Regions from separate parts of the Homo sapiens genome. Here regions 1, 2, 3, 5 and 6 are each linked to region 4. Evidence: fine-mapped expression QTL. A gene starts in region 4. Each other region holds a variant in brackets. All regions are shown on one strand. Distances are from middle to middle.

What was found. PIP is the estimated chance that this variant, and not a neighbour inherited with it, causes the effect.
Region 1: its variant is fine-mapped to the expression of UBE2E2 in sun-exposed skin (GTEx, PIP above 0.99). The same link has a PIP of 0.9 or more in unexposed skin.
Region 2: its variant is fine-mapped to the expression of UBE2E2 in monocytes after LPS (Quach 2016, PIP 0.95).
Region 3: its variant is fine-mapped to the expression of UBE2E2 in monocytes after LPS (Quach 2016, PIP 0.95).
Region 5: its variant is fine-mapped to the expression of UBE2E2 in monocytes (Quach 2016, PIP 0.95).
Region 6: its variant is fine-mapped to the expression of UBE2E2 in whole blood (INTERVAL, PIP above 0.99).

Annotation. Positions count from the first base shown.
Region 1 is chr3:23,106,796-23,110,884 of GRCh38, reverse strand. No RefSeq gene overlaps it. Among named protein-coding and RNA genes, the nearest start is that of UBE2E2-DT, 94 kb to the left of the region's middle. The variant G/T (reference allele first, on the strand shown) is at 2,068.
Region 2 is chr3:23,247,184-23,251,272 of GRCh38, reverse strand. All of the region lies in intron 3 of UBE2E2 (ubiquitin conjugating enzyme E2 E2), which reads right to left. Among named protein-coding and RNA genes, the nearest start is that of UBE2E2, 46 kb to the right of the region's middle. The variant G/TG (reference allele first, on the strand shown) is at 2,002.
Region 3 is chr3:23,162,299-23,166,387 of GRCh38, reverse strand. No RefSeq gene overlaps it. Among named protein-coding and RNA genes, the nearest start is that of UBE2E2-DT, 39 kb to the left of the region's middle. RefSeq lists an enhancer at 4,050-4,089. The variant C/G (reference allele first, on the strand shown) is at 1,520.
Region 4 is chr3:23,201,597-23,205,685 of GRCh38, reverse strand. UBE2E2 (ubiquitin conjugating enzyme E2 E2) reads right to left here and starts at 2,359. Exons shown (of 6, transcript NM_152653.4): 1 at 2,222-2,359. It overlaps UBE2E2-DT (UBE2E2 divergent transcript), which reads left to right and starts at 2,693. Exons shown (of 2, transcript NR_136176.1): 1 at 2,693-2,822. RefSeq lists a silencer at 2,199-2,888 and enhancers at 3,239-3,298, 2,711-3,686.
Region 5 is chr3:23,147,806-23,151,894 of GRCh38, reverse strand. No RefSeq gene overlaps it. Among named protein-coding and RNA genes, the nearest start is that of UBE2E2-DT, 53 kb to the left of the region's middle. The variant C/A (reference allele first, on the strand shown) is at 2,288.
Region 6 is chr3:23,235,034-23,239,122 of GRCh38, reverse strand. The region is part of intron 3 of UBE2E2 (ubiquitin conjugating enzyme E2 E2); the gene reads right to left. Among named protein-coding and RNA genes, the nearest start is that of UBE2E2, 34 kb to the right of the region's middle. The variant T/G (reference allele first, on the strand shown) is at 1,714.

The DNA of each region.
Region 1 (4,089 bases), 95 kb after region 4:
ATTTCAAGTTCATGGAGAAGGGCCATTTTCTTGCCCAGAGGAGCAAACCTTTTTTTTTTTCTTTCTTTTCTTTCTTCTTTTTTTTTTTTTTTTGAGATGGAGTCTTGCTCTGTTGGCAGGCTGGGGTGCAGTGGCGCGATCTCGGCTCACTGCAACCTCTGCCTCCTGGGTTCAAGCGATTCTCGTGCCTCAGCCTCCTGAGTAGCTGAGATTACAGGCACGTGCCACCACACACAGCTAATTTTTGTATTTTTAGTAGAGATGCGATTTCATCATGTTGGGCAGGATGGTCTCGATCTCCTGACCTCATGATCCGCCCACCTCGGCCTCCCAAAGTGCTGGGATTACAGGTGTGAGCCACCACGCCTGGCCAAGACTAAACCTTTTTATCACAAAATTCATGATAAAGCTCAAAATGCAAAATTTTTGAGGTAATACTTCAAGTTTCATTAAAACCATATCAGCAGCTTTTAAAAGTGGGATGAGAGCAAAAGCAACAGACACCACAGATGTAAGCAAAAAGAGCCTGGGACACTAAGAACCAAATTCTCTTGAGCTGCTACTCTCTAGTGGCAGACCTTACATCAAATACATTGTATTCATTAATTCCACAAATATATATTGAGGACTGCTATGTGGCAGCGTACTTGAAAGACATAGTGAAGGATTTTTTAAAGAAAACATGTAGTCAAAAGTTATTTTGTCTAAGGAGGCTGCCATTTTAGAAGGGAAGCATGAAAGTGGGGGTATATATGTATGAATTTATAGTAATGGATTTAAAATATCAGGGTATTACTTAGATTACTTAACGTCCAAGTCAAATTCAAGTGTTTTTTTTTTTTTTTTTTTTAAATAGCTATGGGGATCTTGCTGTGTTGTTCAGACTGGTCTCAAACTCTTGGTCTCAAGGGAGCCTCCCACTTCAGCCTCCCAAAGTGCTGGTATTACAGGTGTGAGCCACTGTGCCCAGCCTAAATCCAAGCTTTTTGATATACATTTCTGTTTAGTAAATAGGTCTTGCTTTCGGCTCTTAACACCTTCTACTTTGTACAATCAATACTTTTAGACCTACCTATCTCTCCCTCACTAATACAGTAACTCTTTGAGGGCAAGGAATAGGCTTTTCTTTTCTTGTCTTTTTAATTGTTTTGAGACAGGGTCTCATTCTGTCACCCAGGCTGGAGTGCAGTGGTACAATCACAGCTCACTACAGCCTCGACTTCCTGGGCTCAGGTGATTCTCCCACCTCAGTCTCCCATGTAACTGGGACTACAAGCGTGCACCACCACACCCAGCTAGTTTTTTGTATTTTCTGTAGAGATGTGGTTTTGTCATGTTGCCCAGGCTGGTCTTGAACTCCTGGGCTCAAGCAATCCACCCACTTTGGCCTCCCAAAATGCTGGGATTACAAGGCGTGAGCCACCATGTCTGGCCAGGGCTATGCTTTTCATATTTTTGATCTCCATAGTGCCTAGAGAAGTACACTGCACAGATATATCATTAAGCCTATGTTAAGTGCACATAAACTAACATGATACCTGGCTCTGAAAACAAGCCCAAACAAACAAAAAAAACCTTAACACTGTTTATTGCTCCCTCTGTACAGATTTCTTAGGAAACTGAATTGAGATTAAAGAGCACTTGTCTTTATTTTTAACTCTCTAGCTGTTATTGTTTGAACATGTTGGTCCTCTCCCGGAGCAGAGCTTTTGAGATCCATAAGGTGAAATTTGTTGTTGAGTGTAAAGAACAACCACATGTCATGGAGCAAGAAGTTTAAGTGGAAGAACATCTTCACTCTAAGCTGTGCATGCTTCAGGTTGCTCCTCCCTGTTCTTTTCTCTAGGCTTTGTATGTAAAACTTGTTACAGCAGTTTGTTACACTGAGCTAGAATCAATTTACAGCAGATTTTACATATTTATTTAAAAATGGCCTGTAATGTATTTTAGAGTCAGTATTGATTCCACTTGTCTTTGTGATTGCATCTGTGACTGGTGTTTTTGTTATGTTGCAATTGCAAGGTGAAGTAATAAGTGCTGAGATTCAATCAGTGCCTACTCTTTTTA[G/T]GTCGCAATTGCTTGATAATAATTCGATTGTATCTCTGCCTGATGTTTTAATACTCCTATCTTCCAGATTGCTCTTGCTAGGGAGGTATTTACCCCAGTAGGTTGTTATACCCTAATAAGAATAAACAAAGCAGGAAACATGTGGTTGCACACACTTCTTTGTGTTTGTCTGGGCTAACACTGTGGCTTAGGCTGACTTTTACAGATAACATATGCTCTAGTTATCTACTGCTGCATAAGCACTCCCAAAATTTAGTGGCGTAAAACAACAGCCACTTTATTATATTCATGGATATTATGGGTCAGGGGTTTATACAGGGCAGAGAAAGGATTGCTTGTCTCTGCTTTATGGGATTGAGACCTCTGCTAGGAAGACTCAAACAATAGGGGTGTGGGGGGTGATGTTAATAGCTGAGCGCTAGAATCATCTAGAGGCTTCTTCAATCATGTGTCTGGTTTTTAGGCTGGGATGACCTGAAAACCAGGCTCCACTGGAACTGTCCACTGGAGTGCCTGGCATGTGGCCTCCTTCTGTGGCTTGGGCTTCCTCATAGCATGGTGGGTTAGGATAGTTGCACTTTTTATATTTGGGCTCCAAGAGTGAGTGTTCCAATGAACAAGGTGGCAGCTGCAGGATTCTTTCTGACCTAGTCTCAGAAATCATGCAACATCACTTTTGTTGCATTCTCTTGCTTGCAAGTGAGTCACTAAGGTCAGCCCAGATTCAACAAGAGGGGAATTAGACCCCACCTCTTAATAGGAATATCAAATAAATTTATTGCCATCTTTAAAATCTTTACAATCAATGTTTTATTCTTTTGTCAAAAATGTTTTCTATTTTTTTTTTTTGAGATGGAATTTCACACTTGTTGCCCAGGCTGGAGTGCAATGACACGATCTTGGCTCACTGCAACCTCCTCCTCCCGAGTTTAAGTGATTCTCCTGCCTCAGCCTCCCGAGTAGCTGGGGTTACAGGCGTGCGCCACCAAGCCTGGCTAATTTTGTATTTTTAGTAGAGACAGGGTTTCTCCATGTTGGTCAGGCTGATCTCGAACCCCCAACCTCAGGTGATCCACCCGCCTCAGCCTCCCAAAATGCTGGGATTACAGGCATGAGCCACTGTGGCCTGTTTTCTATTTTTTAATTAAAAGATTGATTGGTGAAGAGGCACATTCATTAAGCACCTATTAAAACATGCTAAGGCATGGTAAGAAATAAGGTAAAAGAAAGAAAAAACCTTTTTCTTACAAAGGATCCTGCAATTTAATCAGAAATATGGTATGCAAATATGTTAAAAAACTGAGTAACATATTTACAAAGTAAAGTATCAAACAGTGCAAATCAGTATGCTCTAGAACTTTGCTGTAATAGTTGTGGAATTTTTTATAATATGCAAATATTTTGGATCTTGTCCAAGAGAATATATCTAATATAACTACTAACAGTAGCACATGTTACCCAAGCAATTTTTGCAAAGCTAGAGTCTATGAAAGGAGGAATCAGATGAATATAGAATGTTAGGGGTGGAAGGAACTTTAGAGATTATTTATTCCAACTCTTTCAATATATAGATGAGGAAATGAAGGCCCAAAAGGTAACATCACAGACAGTCCAGGAAGGGGGAAAGAATATCAGCTTATTTTTTTGGGTGCCCTTAAGCATGGAAAACATAACTTCTTTGAGTCTCAGTTGAGAATTAAATTCTATCAGTCTGATTCTAACTGTCAGCTTAGGCTGTTATTCTTAAGTAACAAATTACCCCCATATCTCAGTGATTTACAACCAGGGTTTATTTCATGCTTATGCTACAGGCCTATAGTGGGTGAGCTGTGGCTGTCCTTGATGATCTCTTTAGGACCAGGCTGACCTAGCAGCTCCTATCTGGAACATTGCTGGCTGATGCCTGGGTAAAGAGATTATCGTGAAGCAAATACTGGCTCTTAAGGCTTCAGCTTGAAGTCACTGGCTAATCCTGACTGACATCAAAGGAGTGGAAAGTAGGATCTGCCCTGGAGGAATGGG
Region 2 (4,089 bases), 46 kb before region 4:
AGAGAAGCTAACGATGCTCCCCCAGATTCCCACACAAGCTTGCACACAAGCAAGTTTACTGATCATTTCAGAAGGGTTCATCAGCTCCCTGAAGCTGATACACACACGATGAATTAAAAGCTCCTGTCACAGGCTAGGCACAGTAATCCCAGTGCTTTGGGAGACAGAGGTGGGAGGACTGAGCCCAGGAGTTTGAGACCAGCGTGGGCAACATAGCAAGACCCTGTCTTTACAAATAATCTTTTTTTAATTAGAAGCATGATGGCATGCACCTGTAGTCCCAGCTACCTGGGAGGCTGAGGCAGGAGGATCACTTGAGCCCAGGAATTCAAGGTTGCAGTGAGCTATAATGGTGCTAGTGCATGCCAGCCTGGGCGACAGAGTGCGACTCTGTCTCCAATAAATAAATACTCCTGCCACAGAGGACTGAGAAGAAATTACCCATATCAGAAGCCTAGGCTAATAAAGTTACTATAATTGAAGTGACATATAACTCCAAGCTTTCTTGCAGCCAAAGCAAACAGAAAAACTCAACAGAATATATAATTCTTAATGACTGATAGAAGGAAGTATGCCATATCATAAGGAAAGAAACTTTTCTCTGAAACTAAATTCTTGAATAATTTATCACATTAATTCTTATAAAGGGAACAGAGTATCATAAGAGACAATGCATTCAATAGTTTCATCGCAGATGCAGAAATATTCTTCATACAAATGCATCTAACAAAAATTGACAGAATATGAGGAAACAATACTAAAATATAGGACTAAATAGTTTTCTGGTGATCTAGTTTGATATGAAGTTAGAAGTGAGTTCATGCCACCATTTTTCCAATCTCATGTTCATAAAACAACCTCTAATACAAATTCAGAAAAATTTTACTGAGTATAGACCTGGTCTCAGAAACCTCAAAGCAGCCACTTCAAGGAACTGGAGTAGGCATTTGAACCTTTACAGATGAGACAATAATAATGTAAAAGAGAATTAAAGACCAGCGTAGAAGATAGGTTAATAGTACAGGAAATGGAGCCAGGTGGTTTGATCTGAATCATGGCTTATCTACTTAATGGCTGTGACTTTGGCAAGTTTCTAATTGTGACTATATTGCAGTTTCTCACCTGCAAGGTTGTGGTAACAACAGTCCTTACTCAGAGTTACTGAGAACTAGCATCCATAAAGCTCCCAGAACAGCATCTATCTACCCTCCTAGATTAAAGGGGTAAGACAGGCAAACCACTTAGATCAGTGTCTGGCATATAACTTACCACCTACTCTGCAATCATTCAAGAATATGTATTCTTAAAATTCTGTTAGGCCGGATGCGGTGGCTCACGCCTGTAGTCCCAGCACTTTGGGAGGCAGAGGCAGGCGGATCATGAGGTCAGGAGATCGAGACTATCCTAGCTAACACAGTGAAACCCCATCTCTACTAAAAATACAAAAAAATTAGCCAGGTGTGGTGGCGGGTGCCTGTAGTCCCAGCTACTTGGGAGGCTGAGGCAGGAGAATGGCATGAACCCAGAAAGCAGAGCTTGCAGTGAGCCGAGATCATGCCACTGCACTCCAGTCTGCGCGAAAGAGCAAGACTCCATCTCAAAATTTAAAAAAAAAAAAATCTGAGTTAATACACACATTTTATTTTAGCCATCAAATTAAAATAACCTGAATTTTAATCTACACATTTATTTTCAAGGTCACTGGAATCCCTAATCTTGGCTAATTTAACTACGTTTATCCTGAATCAATCTCTTTGCTTCCCAATTGTTTCCAGTGACCAAAATTTTTAGTATCTGGAAAACATACTAAGAAGCTTTTAATGAAAATTGCTTAAAGAGTTCTTTTTCTACACATATCTTACCATATATCCAGTATTTTTCAGTCATTTGTTCTCAAATGCTTTCACTTGGCTTCAGCTCTGCTGACCTTGTTAATCCTTAATTCACAAATTATGGTAAAGTCATATCTTACTCCAGAATTAGGTTCTTTTTTTTTTTTTT[G/TG]AGACAGGGTCTTGCTCTGTTGCCCAGGCTGGGGTGTGGTGGTGCAATCTCGGCTCACTGAAACTTCCGCCTCCCAGGCTCAAAGCAATCCTCCTACCTCAACCTCCCAAGTAGCTGGGACTACAGGTGTGTGCCACCATGCCCAGCTAATTTTTGTATTTTTTGGAGAGACAAGGTTTCGCCATGTTGCCCAGGCTGGTCTCAAACTCCTGGGCTCAAGCAATCCTCCCACGTCAGCCTCTCAAAGTGCTAGAATTACAGGCATGAGCCACTGCACCCGGCCAGAATAAGGTCCTAAGGTAGTTGCAAAAGGCAAAAATTGCATACTCAAAATTACCTTTGAATAGCTCTTAAATCAGTCGGTCAAGTATTCTTCAATAAGGCCAAAACAGCCAATGTTCCTCTAGCACTGCAACAGATCACTCACTGTTCATTCGGCTGAATAACAGATGAAGTAGCTGACTAAGTTTAGGAAAGACTAAAAATCACTGTCAGGGAAGGGAGCTATTCACACTATGAAATGCAATCAAGAACTAAAAGGACTTCTTCCATCTCTCACTCAGGGACACACATTCACTGATCAGAATAAAAGGAATGGCTGAATGACTCTCACTTGCACTCTTAAATTATATTTCTCAAGTATGTTCTCTCCTTTTCGTAAAGAAGACTATACATAGTTGAATTTACAGAAATTAACTAAAGTGAAATGCATGTGATCTAACGCTTCCACTAAAAATTCTAAAGGCGGTTCTAATGCCATACAAATTTAATGTTTATATTTTATTGTGCTGAATGTTCTAAATTCTCAACATTCCACTTAGCTAGCAGAACTCAGTTTTTTGTGGAACAATTTAAAAATTCCACCTGATCGCCTAACTTTTCCTTCAGTCAAGGATTATAGTAGAGAATTAAGGTGCAGTCTCAGGGAAATGACAGAGAAATTCCTCTCCTACATATGAGAAGGTGTGGAACACCAGTGAGGATGTGGGTTAATTCTGGCCATGTTGTCTAAGGAGTGTTCCCACATTCAAAAACAATCAGATGTCTGTCGTGAAGACAACAACCTGATCAAATCATCTACAGAAATGTGTGAAGCTGAAGTACATCAGGACACTAATTGCTTTTTTGATGGAAGAAAAAATGTACTCGACTACAAAAAAGATGGGCATCATGATCTACACTTTTGCAATAGTGAAAAATGAGGACGAAATTGATTAGAATTGGGAATTGGAGACAAAAATGCACTTGGCTTGGTATACGCAACGGACTTTCTAAAGCTTTATGCTAATCAGAATTTTTACATGGTAATATTATCGTTCTTTTAAACTGCAAAGTCTAAAGACTTTTATAACTCAGTCTTTAGAGTTGCTATCTGAATCAAAATGGAGAACCACAAATGAATTTGCAAATGACTTTGTACAAGCTAGTCTCTTTAATAAAAGGGGGAGGGGAGGAAGAAGGAGTAAATGCCAGAATTATTTCATAAGCAATTTCTGGGGTAGAGTGGCAGTGGAAAGTGCCTTTGCAAATGAGCCTCCAAATTCAGGCTACTGTCAAAGAAATGCCTTTCATTGTACTTTGTTGAAGAATTCTGCCTGTTTAGGTCCAAATACTCCTACTTAAAAAATAATACCTCACACCTGTAATCCCAGCACTTTGGGAGGCCAAGGCAGACAGATCACCTGAGGTTGAGAGTTTGAGACCAGCCTGACCAATATGGAGAAACCCCGTCCTACTGAAAATACAAAAATTAGCCAGGCTTGGTGGCGGGCACCTGTAATCCCAGCTACTCAGGAGGCTGAGGCAGGAGAATCGCTTGTACGCGGGAGGCAGAGGTTCTGGTGAGCCGAGATCATGCCATTGCACTCCAGCCTGGTGACAGAGCGAGACTCCGTCTCAAAAAAAAAAAAAAAATACACTCAGAGACTAAATAATATGTAACTAGGTTATTTTCTGATTCAGATATCAGATAATAAAAAATAAGACAATACAGTACCAGAACAATATGAAACCAACCTAGTTTTACATTAATATTTGAGTATTAATTAATAAATTGGAATAAAAAGAGAATAAATAAATTCTTTTACT
Region 3 (4,089 bases), 39 kb after region 4:
GAGTTGTTGCCATCTAGATGGTAGTTAAAATCTGATTGTAAACTGTAGGTCTTTCTTAGCCAGTAAGCCTCCTATTACCCTCCTGACTTTACCGAGAGAAGTTGACAGCATGACACAGTGGAGAAAATATAGGCTTTTGAGTTGGACAGATCTGGATCTGAGTCCCAGTGTTACTACCCTGCTAATCATGTGGCTCTGGGCAACTTTCTTACCTTGCTGAGTTGCAATTTACTTATCTGAAAAATTGGATGACAACACCTACTTCCTAGGGTTGTTGAGCTCATTAAATTAAAGAATGCAAAACTTTTGGTGCATTGTAGATTCTTAACAATTATTTTCTTCCCCTTCCTTTTTAAATGTAGTCTGGAGACTAACCAATGACTGTAGCTCTGGCCTTAGCTTTCTGGACCAGTGCTGCTCAAAGGGTGGTGCTTGAACTAGTAGCAATCAGCATCACCTGGGAGCTTGTTGGAAATGCAGCTTTTCAAGCCACACCATCCTACTGAATCAGAAATTCTAGGGGTGGGACCCTGAAATCTGTATTTGAACAAGCTCTCCAGGTGCTTCTGATACATACTAGAATTTGAGGACTACAGCTTTAGTGTCTTCTGATTCATAAACTTCCGCCTGACCCCTGAGCATACCTATTTCCCTGCTCATGTTTCTGCATAGCTATTTTCAGAAAAAGTTATATCAACCTCTTGGTTGAGTCTAGAATTACACTTTAACTCTTTCCACATAAAACAAAGCTATTCTAGAAGATACTCAAACTCAACATGACCCCGAAAACTCACTCTTCCCTGCCCCCCATCCCCTTCAAAGAGTAAAAACGAACTGTAAAATAACTGACTTCCTTCTCTCCTCCTAGGTTTCCCATTTTAATAATAATTAGAGAAATGTGTTCACTAAAAGCTCACTTTATGTGCCACATTACATGTATCAATGAAATGATATATAAGGTAGGACTAATGTGAATTTCCACTTACTAGATGAGGAAATTGAGGATTAAGGACATTAAATAGCTAACCCAAGGGAACAGAGATTGTGCCAATGGGGACATCAGAAGGAGACCATAAAGCTGGAGCAGAGAGAAGGGACTTGCTTTTTCCTCTTTGTTGCCTGCATCACCCTTGCAGTGCCTTTCACTCCAGCAGAGGCACTTTGTTCTAGTTGCAAAGGTAAATTCCTATTTTGCAATTTTCCCAACACTTGCAAAGCTATCTTTATTGTACTTCCCATCCCCATCCTTCAAATACCAGCATCACTGGCCGATGTGCCCTCCTCAAAGGCTTGGATTCCAGCCCCATGGGACACCACCAGACTCAGGAACAGCAACAGCAGTTGAAAACACCTACTTCTCAAGGTCTAGTCCCCAGATCTATGGGGTTCCTCCACCAAACTACTACTACTCTACTACTTCTCCTTCCTTTTTTTTTTTTTTTTTTTTTTTGAGAGGCAGGTTCTCATTTAGTCACCCAGGCTGGAGTGTAGTCATGGGATCATGGCTCACTGAAGCTTC[C/G]ACCTCCTGGGCTCAAGTGATCCTCCTGCCTCAGCCTCCCAGGTAACTTAGACTACAGGCATATGCCACCAAGCTCAGCTAATTTTTGAAAATTTTGGAGACAGCAGTTCTCACTATGTTGTCCAGGCTGTTCACAAACTCCTGGCCTCAAGTAATTCTCCTGCCTTGGCCTCCCGAAGTGCTGGGATTATAGGCATGAGCTACCACACTCGGTCCCTCTAAACTTCTATATTTTAATAATTATAGTTTCTTCCTTTTGTTCCCCCAGTCCTAGGGATGGCAGCTGCCTCCTGCTATTGCTTACTTCATGATACCATGTTTATTTATTTATTAATTAGAGACAGGGTCTTGCTTTGTCTTACAGTGTCATGATCATGGCTCACTGTGGCCTTGACCTCCTGGGCTCAAGTGATTCTTCTGCCTCGGCTTCCAAGTAACCAGGATTACAGGTGCATGCCATCATGTCCTACTAGATTTTTAATTTTTTTTCTAGAAAAGGGTCTCACTGTGTTGCCCAGGCTGGTCTCAAACTCCTGTCCTCAAATGATCCTCCCACCTCAGCTTCCCAAAGTGCTGGGATTACAGGTGTGAGCCATTGTACCCAGCCCATGGTACCTTATTGTTCCTTTTTGCCTTGTGGTTCTCTAAATATGGTTATATTATATTCTTTTTTGGCAATTAAAATAACTGGTGTGGCTTTTGTTTTTTTACTGGCCCCTGACTGATACATCTTATCACTGTGCTACTCTTCTTATTGTTAGCCAACTCTGAGACTAGAAAACTTGTAGTCTTTTTCATCTTCTTTCTTACTATTAAAATATCTCTCACCTCATCATTCATCAAACCCAGTTCATTCTCTTATGATGTCTCCCAATTTCTTTCCTCCTCTTCATTCTCATTGCCATAGTCCTGTCTGTGGTCTCCACTAACTTGTCCTTTTGCCTGTACTCTTGGATTGATTTTTTAACTTGTATTTCTGTCCTTTATCTTGCCTCATTCTAGGTAATTCTTTAACCTGGTTGCTTGGGTTGCTTAACCCAAATATAATTATAATGATTACTTTCCTATATTCTATTGAAGATCACATTCATTAACATGGCATTCAAGGTCCTCTAGAGTTTAATCCAAATCTAATTTTCTAGTCTGTTTAAAAGTTATGTTCCTTTTATGCGCCATCTTCTATGCACCACGTTGCAGATTGGATTCTATGGAAAGCAGACTCTGGGAAGAAGCGGGAGAGGGAACCAGGAGTGGGTACGATGAGATGTGAAGCTGCAGTGTGATCGCAGCAAAGTCCTCAGACAACCCATGGTGAGCTTTGAAGCATAAGTGGCCTTTCACAGCTATTCTGAACCTGGGCAGGATGGCTCACACCTGTGGGAGTTTTGGGAGACTGAGGTGGGAGGATCCCTGGAGGCCAGAAGTTTGAGGCCGGACTGGATGAGACCTCATCTCTACAAAAAAGTACAAAAAAGTTGGCTGGGTGTGGTGGCACTCACCTGTAGTCCAGCTATATGGGAAGCTGAGGCAGGATGATAGCTTGAACTTAGGAGCTGGAGGCTGTGATCTCACCACTGCACTACAGCCTGGGCAACAGAGCGAGACTCTGTCTTTAAAAAAAAAAAAAAAAGGCTGTCCAGTTCCTCTATACACACTCACAGCAACCAGTCACTGGATGGAGGCTCTTGCTGGGGAGGGACATGGTCTTGGGTGAGTAGCCCTGTGCTGCTGAGGGCAATTCCTGTGGAGGGCTGTTGTCAGGTGTGCTCCCAGTAGCTGTGGAACTAGATTGTTTAGTTCTGAAAGGGAAATCTGGGCTGCACACCACAGCATCCTCTAGAGACTCACATGACTCTGCCGTACTTGTAAAACAAGTGAGGCAACTCACTATGTCTATTGTCACATTAACTCCCCAGCCTCATATGTACTAGCCTGAGATTACACTTGTTGAAATCCAACCTGTCTTTTAAATATTATTTTGTCAAAATGGCATTATTGAAATACAGTTTACATACTGTACAGTTCACCCATTTACAGTGTATAATTCAGTGACTTTTAGTATATTCACAAATATGTGCAATCATCACCACAGTAAACTTTGGAACAGTTTCATCCCCTCAAAAGAAAACCCATACCCTGTAGGTCCCCCTTTCCCTTCAGCTCTAAGCAACCACAAATCTTTCTGTCTCTATTTCCCCATTCTGGACATTTCATATCAGAATCATATAGTAAGTGGTCTTTTGGGTCTGGCTTCTTTCATTTACCGTAATGTTTTCAAGGTCTATCCATGTTGTAGTGTTTATCAGCACTCCACTCCTTTTTATGGTCAGATAATATTTCGCTATGTGTCCGTACCACATTTGCTTATCTAAATTTGTCAGTCGACGGGTGGTTTGGACTATTTATACCTCTTGGCTATTGTGAATAACACTGCTTAACCTTTGTGTACAGGTGTTTGTATGCGCATTTGCTTTCATTTCTCTTGGGTATACACCTAGGAGTGGAATTGCTGAGTCATAAGATAAAGCTATGTTTAAATATGTGGGGAATTCCCAGATCTTTTTCCAGAG
Region 4 (4,089 bases):
TTCATCCAAATGTTAACCTACAAATGATAAGTCCATCTGAGGCCATTGATAACCACTATAGGAACTTTTAGAAATAAAGTTTTCACATCTCTTTTTCAAATATCAATAATAAAAGGAATTTCTCCTGGGTTTGTTTTTTGAATGCTTGATTACAGAAAAAGTATAGAAAAAAATTATTGTACCACTCAGGTGCAACGAATTTTTATGAAGAAAAAGTAGTCTATGAATCAATTTAATTAGTCGTAAGTGTAAACTTGATGTCTTGTCTCTCTGAAGTACAAATGAATAAAAATTCCTGAATTAAAATCCTTTAAACATTATCTTCTAAATTAGCATTTTAAAATTAATTCCTAAATAGCTAATCTGATCCGATTATCTCATCTACAGGGAAGATAAACTTAAATCCCAGGGTTATAAACAAACAGCTACTCTCCAATGATACTTTCAAAGATATTGAGAGAGATAAATACGCTTACTTCATAACTCAAAGTAAAATTTAATTTTTAACCATAAAATAAGTAGTCCTTCCTAAAACTATATTAAGAGGCTTACATATTGTTACTTCTTCAACACAAACTGTCTAAGCTTGTATTAGCTATGTACCCTATGTTGTAATTACAGTCCTGGAAATTAGCAACATACAGTGAATGAAACTCACATGTTCCATAAAAATGAAATGATTTGGCTTGAAATATTACTGACTACATAAAGGCAACTATAGTCATTCCATAAATCCAGCCTACTACCCAGGTAAGCCTTATAACAGTATCTACTAGTATAAAACTGCAAAACCAAGTGTTCATTTAAGCTTTTATAACAGGAAAGCGTTTAATTCTGTCATATATGTCTTGCTGTCTTCCTACTCATGTTTCTAAACTTTTCTAAAATGTAAAATAAATATATAGTATATGCACACAGCAATATCCAGCTTTAAATTTAACTGCAAAGACATTTATGCAGAAAATAACAGTGGAACACCTGATTTGGGGGTAAAAGGTGCTGCAGGGGAAAGAGAATGGGGTATGGCATTATATGAAAACACTCTATTTCAGCGTCAGCCCACATACAGAATTCCAAAGAGCCAAGGAGCATCCAAATTGCCGTAGTAAAGGCAAATATTTAGATTCACAAAGTCCAGACTGAATTATCACATATCTAGAAACATACTTTTTAAAGAAATCAGGGATTAAAAACTAAGAAGAGCGTAAAATCCTTTAGAACCGCGAGATACTTTGAGGGTAAACCCTAGCACTTCCTTTCGTACTTTTAAATAAAAATATTTTAGTAGACTCTCAAGAATACACAATACAAAACGATGAATCTTGAAAACATGCAAATGGGTCTAACAGCCACCGAGCACAGGATGATGTCTTTCTAAAGCAGCCTTAATTTCCTTAAGGGAAGATGGATTGGACATTTCTGGTTGGTCGTGGGGGAAAAAAGCCACAAGAAGCCACGCTTTATCTTCATTAGAAATGGTAAAGGGCAAAAAGATCAAAACATTATGAGAGAGATCGGAGAAAAGAGGGGGAGAAGTGGGGTGGGCGGGAAGGGGGAGAGGACAGAGGGAATCCAGTTTCAAACCAGGCCAGTGGGGGCTGCAGAGAAGAGACCAGAGAAAAATGGGCTTCGGTTCCAAACTGTGACAAGCGCCAGGCATCACAAAAGACCAATACAACACACACCCCTCACCAGGACACACACAAATATACCCCACAAGGTCTTCTCCGGGCGGGCCACCGGGGTGCGGCGGCGAAGGAGCCAAACCCGGCACTCGCCAGGAGACACACCATGTGCAGCAATTATGCAATTAGGGAAAATAGCAAAAGATCAAGCCGGGCACTTTCCACCGTGACATTTATCCTGTACTTTTGAAAAGACTTAGTTCCAGGATGCGGCTAGGAGAAGGAAAGCGCTGGGAGGGTTGAGAAGGATGGGGAACTGAGAACGGAAGGGGGTAGAAGGAGGACAGGGAGAGAAGAGGCAGAAGGGGGGGATGGGAAGAAGGGGGAGGGGTAGAAAGGGCGAGAAACGGGGGCAGGAGGCTCGCGGGAGGGGGCGTAGGGAACCGGGCACGGGGAGCGAGGAAGGAGGGAACTAGGGCACGAGCGGTGTAAGCAGAGACCTGCGACGCGGAGGGGAGGTCGGGGGAGTGAGGAGGACGTCAGCGAGAGGGAGGACGCCCGAGGAGGGGAGGCACCGGCGCGGCCCGAGCGAATACCTGAGGGGGGGGTGTCCGTGCAGGTCGCAGGCTCGAGCCGAAGCCCTGGGAGAGAGCTGCCCAGGCGCGAGGGGGAGGGAGACTGGGGAGGCCCCAGGGACGGGATGTCCCCTGCGGACCGTCTAGTCACCGAAAGCCGGACCCACGCACCACGCACCCGACCACGCCTGTCCCCGCCGCGCTCGCGCCCGCCCGGACTCACCCTCAGCGCCGCCGCTGCCGCCGCCCCCGGCCGTTCCAGCTCCGGCTCCTGAGGCTGCTGCCCGCGGCTGTCGCTGTGGCTGCCCCTGAGTCCTGGAAAGTGAAGCCACCACCTCCGGGAGCCGCCGCCGCCCGGCCGTCCGCGCGCGCACCCGCGAGTGCGCGTGCCTGCGCGCCCGCCCGGGAGAGACCGCGAGAGCGCGAGCCCCACGTCGGCCATGCGGCGCCGCGCGCCTCCCTCCTCCCCCCGCCCCTCCTCCTCCGGCGCGCGGCCGCGAGGGGGCGGGGGCGGGAGCGCGCCCGGGCGGGCTGCCCCGCCGGTCGGGAGAGGGGGTGGGGAGGCGGCGAGGAAAAGTAAAGTGACAGCTGGGTCCCGCGCGCAGACTGGGCTCTGACGGGGGTGAGCGAGGGGCGTCCCACGGGGAAGGAACGACAAGGACGGGGAGAAGTGGGGGAAACCGAGGCTGACGGGGTGGCTTGAGGGGAGGGGACGCGAGGACCTTGCCGGGCACGCGCATTAAAGGGAAACGCCGGCTGGGGGTTAGGGGTTACCCCAAGACGGTGCAGGCAGTGGGACGAGGAGGCCTTTTACCCCCATCCACCGCAGCCCTTGACTTCACGCTCGCCTCGAAGCTTTCGCAAAGTAGATACGGGGACTGACCCTGTTGACACACTAACCCAAACTCGCAGACGCGTGGGGCTCGCATGTACCCAAGACAGGAAAACTTCACGTTGGCCTGGAAACTTCTTCCAGGCTAAGCCTGAGTCTTCACCAGACACTGCAGCACGAAGGCCCTTCTGCCTTTTGGCTCGCCCTGGCCCAGAATGCGCACCAGCCGGTAGAGAGGAGCTTCGGGCCGTTTAGCCCTGGGGTATTGAAGAGAGGGGTGGGGGTACAGGGTGCACCACTGTCAGAGTGAGTGGGAAGCTGCCTTCATGCCCAGTTGAAGGATATGGGAACAGTAGCAGTGCTGTAGGTGGCATGAGGGAACATTAGGTTCCGTTGTACTCCTCATCCCAAATAACCGTTTAAAAAAAAAAAAAAAACGTACCTGCTTTGCGAACTTAGCTTCCACGAAATTTCTCCCACTCCAACCTCCAGCCTCACTTACCAACGGAATGCTGGGTCGTTGGCAACGGGGTGTCCAGGGATGCAGCAAAATTAACTTCTATCTTTGTGGAGGAAAGGATTGGAAGATCTTTCACTGCTTAATTGCTGAAATTATGGTTGCTACAGTACTTCATTTGACTGTAGATGTTTTAACTGCTATTTACTAAGTTCAAAATGGGTTTAATACAAATCAGTTACCCTTTTCATTTATTCAAGGAATATTTATTGATACCAGGCACTGTCTAGGTGGTAGATATATGACATTGAATAAAAGAAAAAAATCCTTGTCCTCAGAACTTCCCTATGTCTGAACCTTCTCTGTTGTACACTCAGCATCACATTCGTCAGCAAATTCTGTTGACTCTGTTTTCACAAATATATGGTGAAAATGTCCACTCCGTCTCACTCCCCTCCCCACTGCTAATGTCCTGGTCTAAGGCATCATCTCTCAATAATTATCTCCTACCTGATCTTTCTACCTCCCACTCTCCGCCTCCTCCCTCCCCAACACCTACACACAGCCGACTGTCCTTTAAAACAAAGATTAGATTATGTC
Region 5 (4,089 bases), 54 kb after region 4:
CCCATGTGAATTTTAGGATCAATTTGTTTAGCTCAATAAAATAACTTCCTGGCATTTTACTGACCTCTCATTAAATTGATAAGTTCATTTAGAACTGGCATATTGATGTCCTAACCAAGAACAAGGGATGCCTTTGTATTTGTTCAAGACTCTTTTTGGACAACCCACTCTTAATCAAAGTGAATAATGATGTTAGGTAATCATTAATTTTTCCTGGTATGCTTTAATTTAAAATATCTGATGGAATAAATAAGACATTTAAGTGGCTGTGGGAAGGGAACATCACACTTTTGAATAACTTTTAGGTGCCATTTACTGTGCAAAGTGTTTAATTCCCAAAGAATCAAGAAATTATTGATTTTGCTTTGTGTATATTGTCGATGGGTGTACTCTTTCACAAAGTTTCTGTAACTTCTCTGAGAACAGTCAATGAATATCAAGAATGAGATTCAGACCCTGTACCGTGTGCCCTTTAAGTTCACTACCTACTAAAAACCAACACGGTGTTATTCCTCAGGTGAAAAAGAAAATTTGAAAATATACACTGTCTTCTTTGATTTTTAGAACTACTGGGAAGTCAATAAGGTATACATGGACTATTTGTAGTCTAGTTTTGCTGATAAGGAAATTGAGGCTCTAGAGAGGTTAAGTGTTCCAAGATTATGGTTAATAAGTGTCAGAGGTGATTCTAGATTATATGACCACTAACCCTGCTCTTTTCTGGGTACCACACCAAACCTTAAAAATTCAAAGGAGGCTGTGTGTGGTGTAATCTCAGCAATTTTGGAGGCTGAGGCAGGAGGTTTTCTTGAGCCCAGGAGTTCAGGACCAGCCTGGGCAACATAGTGAGGCCCCATCTCTAAAAAAAAAAAAAAAAAAAAAAAAGAAGAAGTCAAAGGAAAACAATTATACCTCTTCCTATCAATCTTGGACATGTATGATTTAAAAACTAATTCTTTGAAGTAGAACCAAAATGCATTGCACTTTTGCCCCACGGTGGGTGGAAGCCTTTCGTTATTCTTTGAATCTGTGAATCTCAACATTTCCTCTACATCGGAATCACCATGATGCTTCAATAAATACACACATGTGGGTCACATCTCCCGAGATTATTATTTAATTGGTCCATGTTGTGACCTGGTCTTCTGGATCTTAAAAATACTACCCTCAATGCTAATGTGCACCCAAGGTTGAAAGCCACCGGTCTAGATAATGTTTAAGATACCTTCAATCTTATGAAGGTATCTTATACTTCAATACTCTATAATTATACCTTCAATACTCTATAATTCTGAGATTTCTTCTTCTGTGGTAGTTAAGAGTGCAAATTCTGGAAATGACTGCTGAAGGTTGAATCCTTTTTCCTTACAACCTACCTTTACAATTTCCTTACAATTTACCTAAGTTGTATCTTAGGTAAATTACTCAATCTCTTTCATTCTCTATTTCTTCATATTTTAAAATTGATACAATTTTGCTTACTTCATAGAGTTAAATTTTTTAAAAATTAAAAATCTTATTTTTAGGGCAGTTTTAGGTTCACAGCAAAGATAAGTGGGATGCACATGCTTCCTATATATGCACTGTCCCACTGCACACACGCACACACAACCTCTCCCACTATCGATGTTCTGCACCATTTGGTACAATTGATAAACCTACATTGAAACATCACCATTGCCCAAAGTCCGTAGTTTACATTAGAGTTCACTCTTGGTGCTGTACATTCTATGGGTTTTGACAAATGTGTAGAGACATGTGTCCAACATTATAGTATCATACAGAGTAGTTTCACTACCCTAAACATTCTCTGCTCTCTGCCTATTCATCCCTCTCACTCCCAAGTATGGCAACCATTTTACTGTGTCCATACTTGCACCTTTTTCAGAATGTCATATAGTTGGAATCAAACTGTATGTAGCCCTTTCAGATTGACTTCTTTCACTTAATATACATTTAAGTTTCTTCCATGTCATTTCAAGGCTCAAAAGCCAATCTCTTTCTCAGCACTGAACAATATTCCATTGTTTGGATATACCACAGTTTATTTATCCATTCATCTTCTGAAGGACATCTTGGTTGCTTCCAAGGTTTGGTAATTATGAATAAAGCTGCTATAAGTATCTTTGTGCAGGTTTTTGTGTAGACATAAGTTTTCAATTTGCTTAGGTAAATTCCAAGGAGTATTATTGTTGGATTGTATTTAGAAAAACCTAAAGACTCTACCAGAAAACTCTTAGAACTGATAGATGAAGTTAGTAAATTTGAAGGATATAAAGTCAACATA[C/A]AAGCTGGGCATGGTGGCGTGTGCCTGTAGTCTCAGCTACTAGGGAGGCTGATGTGGGAGGATCGCTTGAACCCAGGAGTTTGAGAGCAGGCTGGGTAGCATAGCAAGACTTCTGTCTCTTAAAAAAAATACAAAAATCAGTAGCACTTCTATACACTAACAACAATCGATCTGAAAAAGAAATTAAGAATACAATCTCACTTATAGTACTCAAAAAAATTCCTAAGAGTAAACTTAACCAAAGATATGGTAATCTTATAAAGCTTTTAATATATAGCCCTGCATATAGTAAGTGCTCAATAAATGGTGGCTATTTTCTTTCTAGTCACCTGTTTTCTACTTGGTATGTAGATTTTGGAAGGAAAGAGAGTGAATTCCAAATTAGAGGGTAAAACATAGGATTTTATCTGACCGGTAATATACCTGAAGCCAATCTGCATTGTCTTAACAGAACCTTGACTTTGTAAGTGGTAAGCAATAGAAAGTATCCACTAGGAAAAAGAAGCTGCAGAGAGGGACAGCTGACTATAGAGTGAGGCCCGTTGCTCTCTTGGGTCAGAAGGCTGATGGGAAAAGTGTGGGAAGAGAAGTTACTTTGGGTGTTCGGCGGTGTGTGTGCCTGTGCACAGACATGCACACTCCTGGGAGTGTAGAATTCATGTCTGTTTAAGTGTGATTCTCTATGTGTCAGGAAAAAGCAGATCACAAGAGGGGGAATTGCAGGGAACTAAGAAAGTGAAGAAAGAAAAGTACATGAGAACAAAAGAGACATTCATTTTTTGTTTTCCCGCTTTCTTCCTCCCTTTGCCACCCACAGAAACTTGGCTCGTTTTTGTGCACTCCCATGTGCATATTGTTTCTTGGCCACTGTTGGAAGAAATGAGGAAAATACGGACTTTTAAAAGTCTGGGATAGTTCTGAAAGCACAGACCAGTGTAACCAAACTAACCTACCTAGCTACCTTCCTTCCTTCCTTCTTTCTCTCCCTTTTTTCCCTTCCTCCCTCCCTTCCTTTTCTCCCTCCCTCCCTCCCTCTCTCCCTCCCTTCCTTTTCTCCCTCCCTCCTTCCCTCTCTCCCTCCCTTCCTTCCTTTCTTTCCTTCCTTTCCTTCCATCATTGAAAGCCAAGCTCATTTAGTACTCAAAATGTTTCTTGAATTAATACATTAGACTTTGGGTTTACAGGGGCTTAAATGAAAAAAGAGGGCTTGCACCCTTGAGAAGCTCATAATTTTCCAATTTTGGGATTGGACCATTTCATTGGATTGGCACTACTATGGCTCATTGTCCTCACTTAGTCTATTACAGTGGTTCTCACACTTTAGTGTGTATCCGAATCACCTGGAGGTCTTGTTAAAGCTCAGATTTTTCCAAATGATGGTCTTAACAGAAAAAAAAAATAAAGCTCAGATTGCTGGAACCACCTCCAATTTCTGACTCAGAGGTTTGATGCAGGGCTTGATAATTTGTATTTCTAGCAAGTTCCCAGGTGATGCTTACACTGCTGGTTCCTGGATCATGCCTTGAGAACCACAGATCTATTAGGATGCTAGCCATTTTTCTTAGTCAGAAGACAGAAGCCATGTTAATTATTTGAACAGAGAGAATATAGTAGAAGGAATTTTAAACTAGGTATAAAGTTGTTAACCTGAAAGTAAATGAGCTTTAAAGTTCCATGAAGGTAGCAATTGTGGGAAACACCTACCAACTCCTAGGACTGATAGGAAAAAAAAAAAGGAAAATGCCTGGATTATTAAAACTTCAGAAACTTCGAGAAGCTAAAACTGAGATCTCTGAGGAGAG
Region 6 (4,089 bases), 33 kb before region 4:
CATACTGTTTCAAAGAAGAGGGAAATATAAAACTACTTAGAAACAAATTTTATCTCACATAAATTAAATTTAGGAACCTGAAGGTATACATTTCAGTTACTCAACAAATTCACGCATGTTCCAAAAAGGCATGACTGGATAAATTTTCCATCTTATAGAAAACTATCTTCTTTCTCCGGCTAGAGGTTGAACATTCCTAATCTGAAAAGCTGAAATCTGAAATGCTCCAAAATCAAAAACTTTCAGCACTGACATGATGCCACAAGTGGGAAACTCCACACCTAACCCCATGTGGCAGGTCCCAGTCAGATCGCAGGCACACAATACACAGTTTATTCAGCGTCCCCATGGGAGAAATAAAACTACCTTCAGGCTATGTGTATAAGGTGTGTAAGAAACATAAATGCATTTCATGTTTAGACTTAGGCCACATCCTGAAGATCGCTCATTATGAATATGCAAATATTCCAAAATTCAAATTCTGAAATCCAAAAGGCTTTTGGTCCCAAGCATCTCAGGTAAGAGATACTCAACCTGTACTTTATTAATCCTATATACTAGCTTTTAAAAAACAGCCTTTACTGATGATGGTTTCTTAAGGGGAAAATCCCACCCAACCTAACTAGTTCAACTCTCAAAGTTTTGTTCCTTTTAACTGCTACCACAGGCATGGCCTCTCCCGAACAATGTAACATTATATAACTCTTTACATTTGCACAATGCTTTAGTGTTCTAGAAGCTTTCATATACATGATCATGTATGATCCTACAAGGCAGGTGGAGTAAATCTGGTAAAGGAATGGTACTTGCTCAATTTCACAGTGGCGGATCTTGTGACAAAACTCAGGTTTTGACACTAAGGAGATGAAAGTGCTCAGCAGGCTTTTAGTGAATAAATGAACAAGACTACTAGATGAATTATCTTACTACTATACCACACTTCCTTCTATATGCTTTCCAATATTTTTCTCTAACTATTTCAAGGGAACCAGGCTTTTTTCAACAATAAAGATTATAAACTAAAGTCAAGAGGCCATATCTCATATTTATTCCAGGTCCCCACAGTTCTGAGTACTTGTGGATGGAATGATTAAAATGTCAACCTGTGAGTCCTGAATGTATTTATGGTTGTTGAGCTGCATCATCAAAAAAGACAAACTAAAGCGGAAAACACTAAAAAAAAATTTCCCCTCAAGAGTTTGTATAAGACTTTAAAACAAAATTTAAGCCCACGTTCTGAAGAAATATTAACAAATGAATTAAGACCCTGTTAGAAATTGCATTGTAAAGCATATTTTTTGGTTTAAGTAAGGCCTTATACATTTCAAAAGCTATTATTCTCCTAAACTATTGATGGTGGCAGGCCCAGCAAAGACGTAAGACCTCTACAATTCGCCTACCTGTAAGAATGAAGCAAAAGTGCCTCATACTAAGTATAATTAATGTAAAAAAATTAAAGATTTCATTTTAAGAAAAAAATGTTTTCACCAATAAACACAACCCCAATTAATGAGTGTTGTATACATGAAAAATGAATTATTTAATTTAATAATAAAAGAGTCCATGTGATCTCCAAGTGAATTTTCTAGTCATCTTCCTTTTACTAATACCAGCCCAGCTGATGAGGCTTCTACAAACAGATGAAAGGGAAAATCTTTATTAAGAGATACTGACAACCAAGCAATCTAGGGTCACACACAAGTAACAAGATAC[T/G]TATATGTATGCTTACCATTTTAGAGAAAAATAAGACATGCAGAAGTTATCTGCCTTAGTAACTACATAAAAATATTTGTCTATTACATGAAACATATTAAGAAGATAATGAATAATACATTATATGCCTTCACCATTCCCAAAACAAATGAAGAAAAGAAATGCACGCAAGCCTTATAAACAGCAACAACAGCATCAACAACTAACAATTTTTGAGCCCTTATATGCCAGGCACTACTCTGAGTGCTTTACATGTATTAACTCATATAATCCTCACACAACCCCATGTGGTTTTACAGATGAAGGAACTGAGGCACTGAGAAGGTATGTAACTAACCAAGAGGCTATGTATACGTAGTCTAGCCAGTCTCTCCAAAAGAAACCACCGTGTAATACTGCCTCTAACTCAATGTAACAGGTCCCACGGGTGCGCTGGGAAGAGAAAATTACAGAATGGAAGCAGTATTTGAGCGAAGCCTTGAAGAGCAAATGAAAGAGAGAGACAAAGGACCATGCTGGTGCACATGTGTAGGAGAAGGTTTTCCATCTCTGCTACTACTATTTGGCCTCTGCACACACAAGACACAGGCAGAAGTCATGAAGAGATAGAGAGACAGGCGGTCCACACATCCACAGGAAATGTTTAAGAGTACACTTAGGCCAACGCTGGCTTTGAGGGTAGTCTTTCCTGTTCTCCAGATGTAACATTTCTGACAGCTTTCTCAACGGCAAAAATGAAGAAGAATATATGTCGACCACACTTAATTATGTGTTCCAGAGATGGGAGCTAGACACATGTAAACTGACATGCTACCAGCAATAACTTCTTCTCCTGTGAGAAATAATCTATAGTAAGAGAAAGGCAATAAATAATGATACACACTGAACAGCTATGTTCAGTCCACAGGCCAAAAAAAAAAAAAAAAGGACCTAAGAATCCTCAAAAGCATTTTTAAGTCCCAAAGCCTGACTGGACAACATTCAGACGAACAGAACTCTGCTTCTCTAAGGGAAAGCCTTCCCTCCTGAGCCCAATTATGGAGTCTGGTTGAGTAGGTAATATGAATAATCTTGCAAAATTACTGAAGAAATTACTCTTGAAATCTCAATGCCACTAAATAGTCTTTATTTACTTATTACTTTCCCGGTGAAGAAAGTAATTACAACTTTATTCTACTTTCGTATTCACTTGAAAATTTCATTAATTATTAATTTTAGATGTACTCACTAAGAACAGGGGACTCTCTTTTTCTCTCAACTTCATGGAAACCTCTCTCCTGGTTTTCCTCCTACCCCCTAGATGGCAAACTCCTTAGGACTCCTCTGCTAGCTGCTAGTTCACCCATTTCTGAATGTTACGAGGGCTTGGTTTTGAGTATTACTGTCTGTCTATATTCTTTCCACACACAAATTCATCATTTCCTACAGATTTAAATATTTCTTTGATGACAATTCAAATTGATATTTCCAGCTCTCCACTGAGCTCCAAACTCATGTTCAACTGCCTACTTGACATCTCCATTTGGATGTCTCAGACATTTCAGAATTAACACATCCAAAACAGAACTCTTGATCCTGTCCATCAAACCACTTATCTCCCAGAAATCTTCCCCATCTCAAAACAGGCACCACCATTTCCCCAACAGACTCAAACCCAACCCCATGATTTCTTTCTCTGTTCTAACAGTCCCCCTAACTCTGCCATTTACCCATCAGCAAATCCTGTCCACCTGCCTTCAAAAAACATACTTCAAATGACCCTCTTTCTATCTCCACTGCTACTGCCATAATCTATAACACCATCCTCTCTCACCTGATGACTGTCAGCATCTACTCTTTTACCCACCTCCAATCTAGCAACCAGACTGATCTTAATAAAAGCCAAACTCTGCTTGATTTGGCCACAACCTCATTCTGCCACCTCATCTTGTACAACAGCATTCCCCTGCCCACTCCCCACTCCCCCTCAATCCAGCCACACCAGACTTCTTCCAGCTAGCTCCCTGAACATCAGAGCTATCTGCTTTCGAGCTTCAGCACATGCAGTTTGTAATACTAATGGTCCCCCACACCTTATGTACCTAACAACTTTTTGCTCTCAATTAAGATTTCACCTCCTTAGAAAAGCTTTCTCAACCCAAAATAAAACTAGAACCCCACACTAAAACTCATCCCTGGTTTTCTTCATAGCAATTATGATGTCTGTTTACTTCCCCAGCTCATCATAAAGGCAATTTTTCTGTTTTGTTTTGTTTTTAAACAAGTTCCAGTCTGTCTTCACAGCTAAAACATAAGCTCTACAAAGGCTGGAGATGCCTTCCATCTTGTTCATAATTGCATCCCCAGTATACAGCACAGTGCTGATCACATATTGGC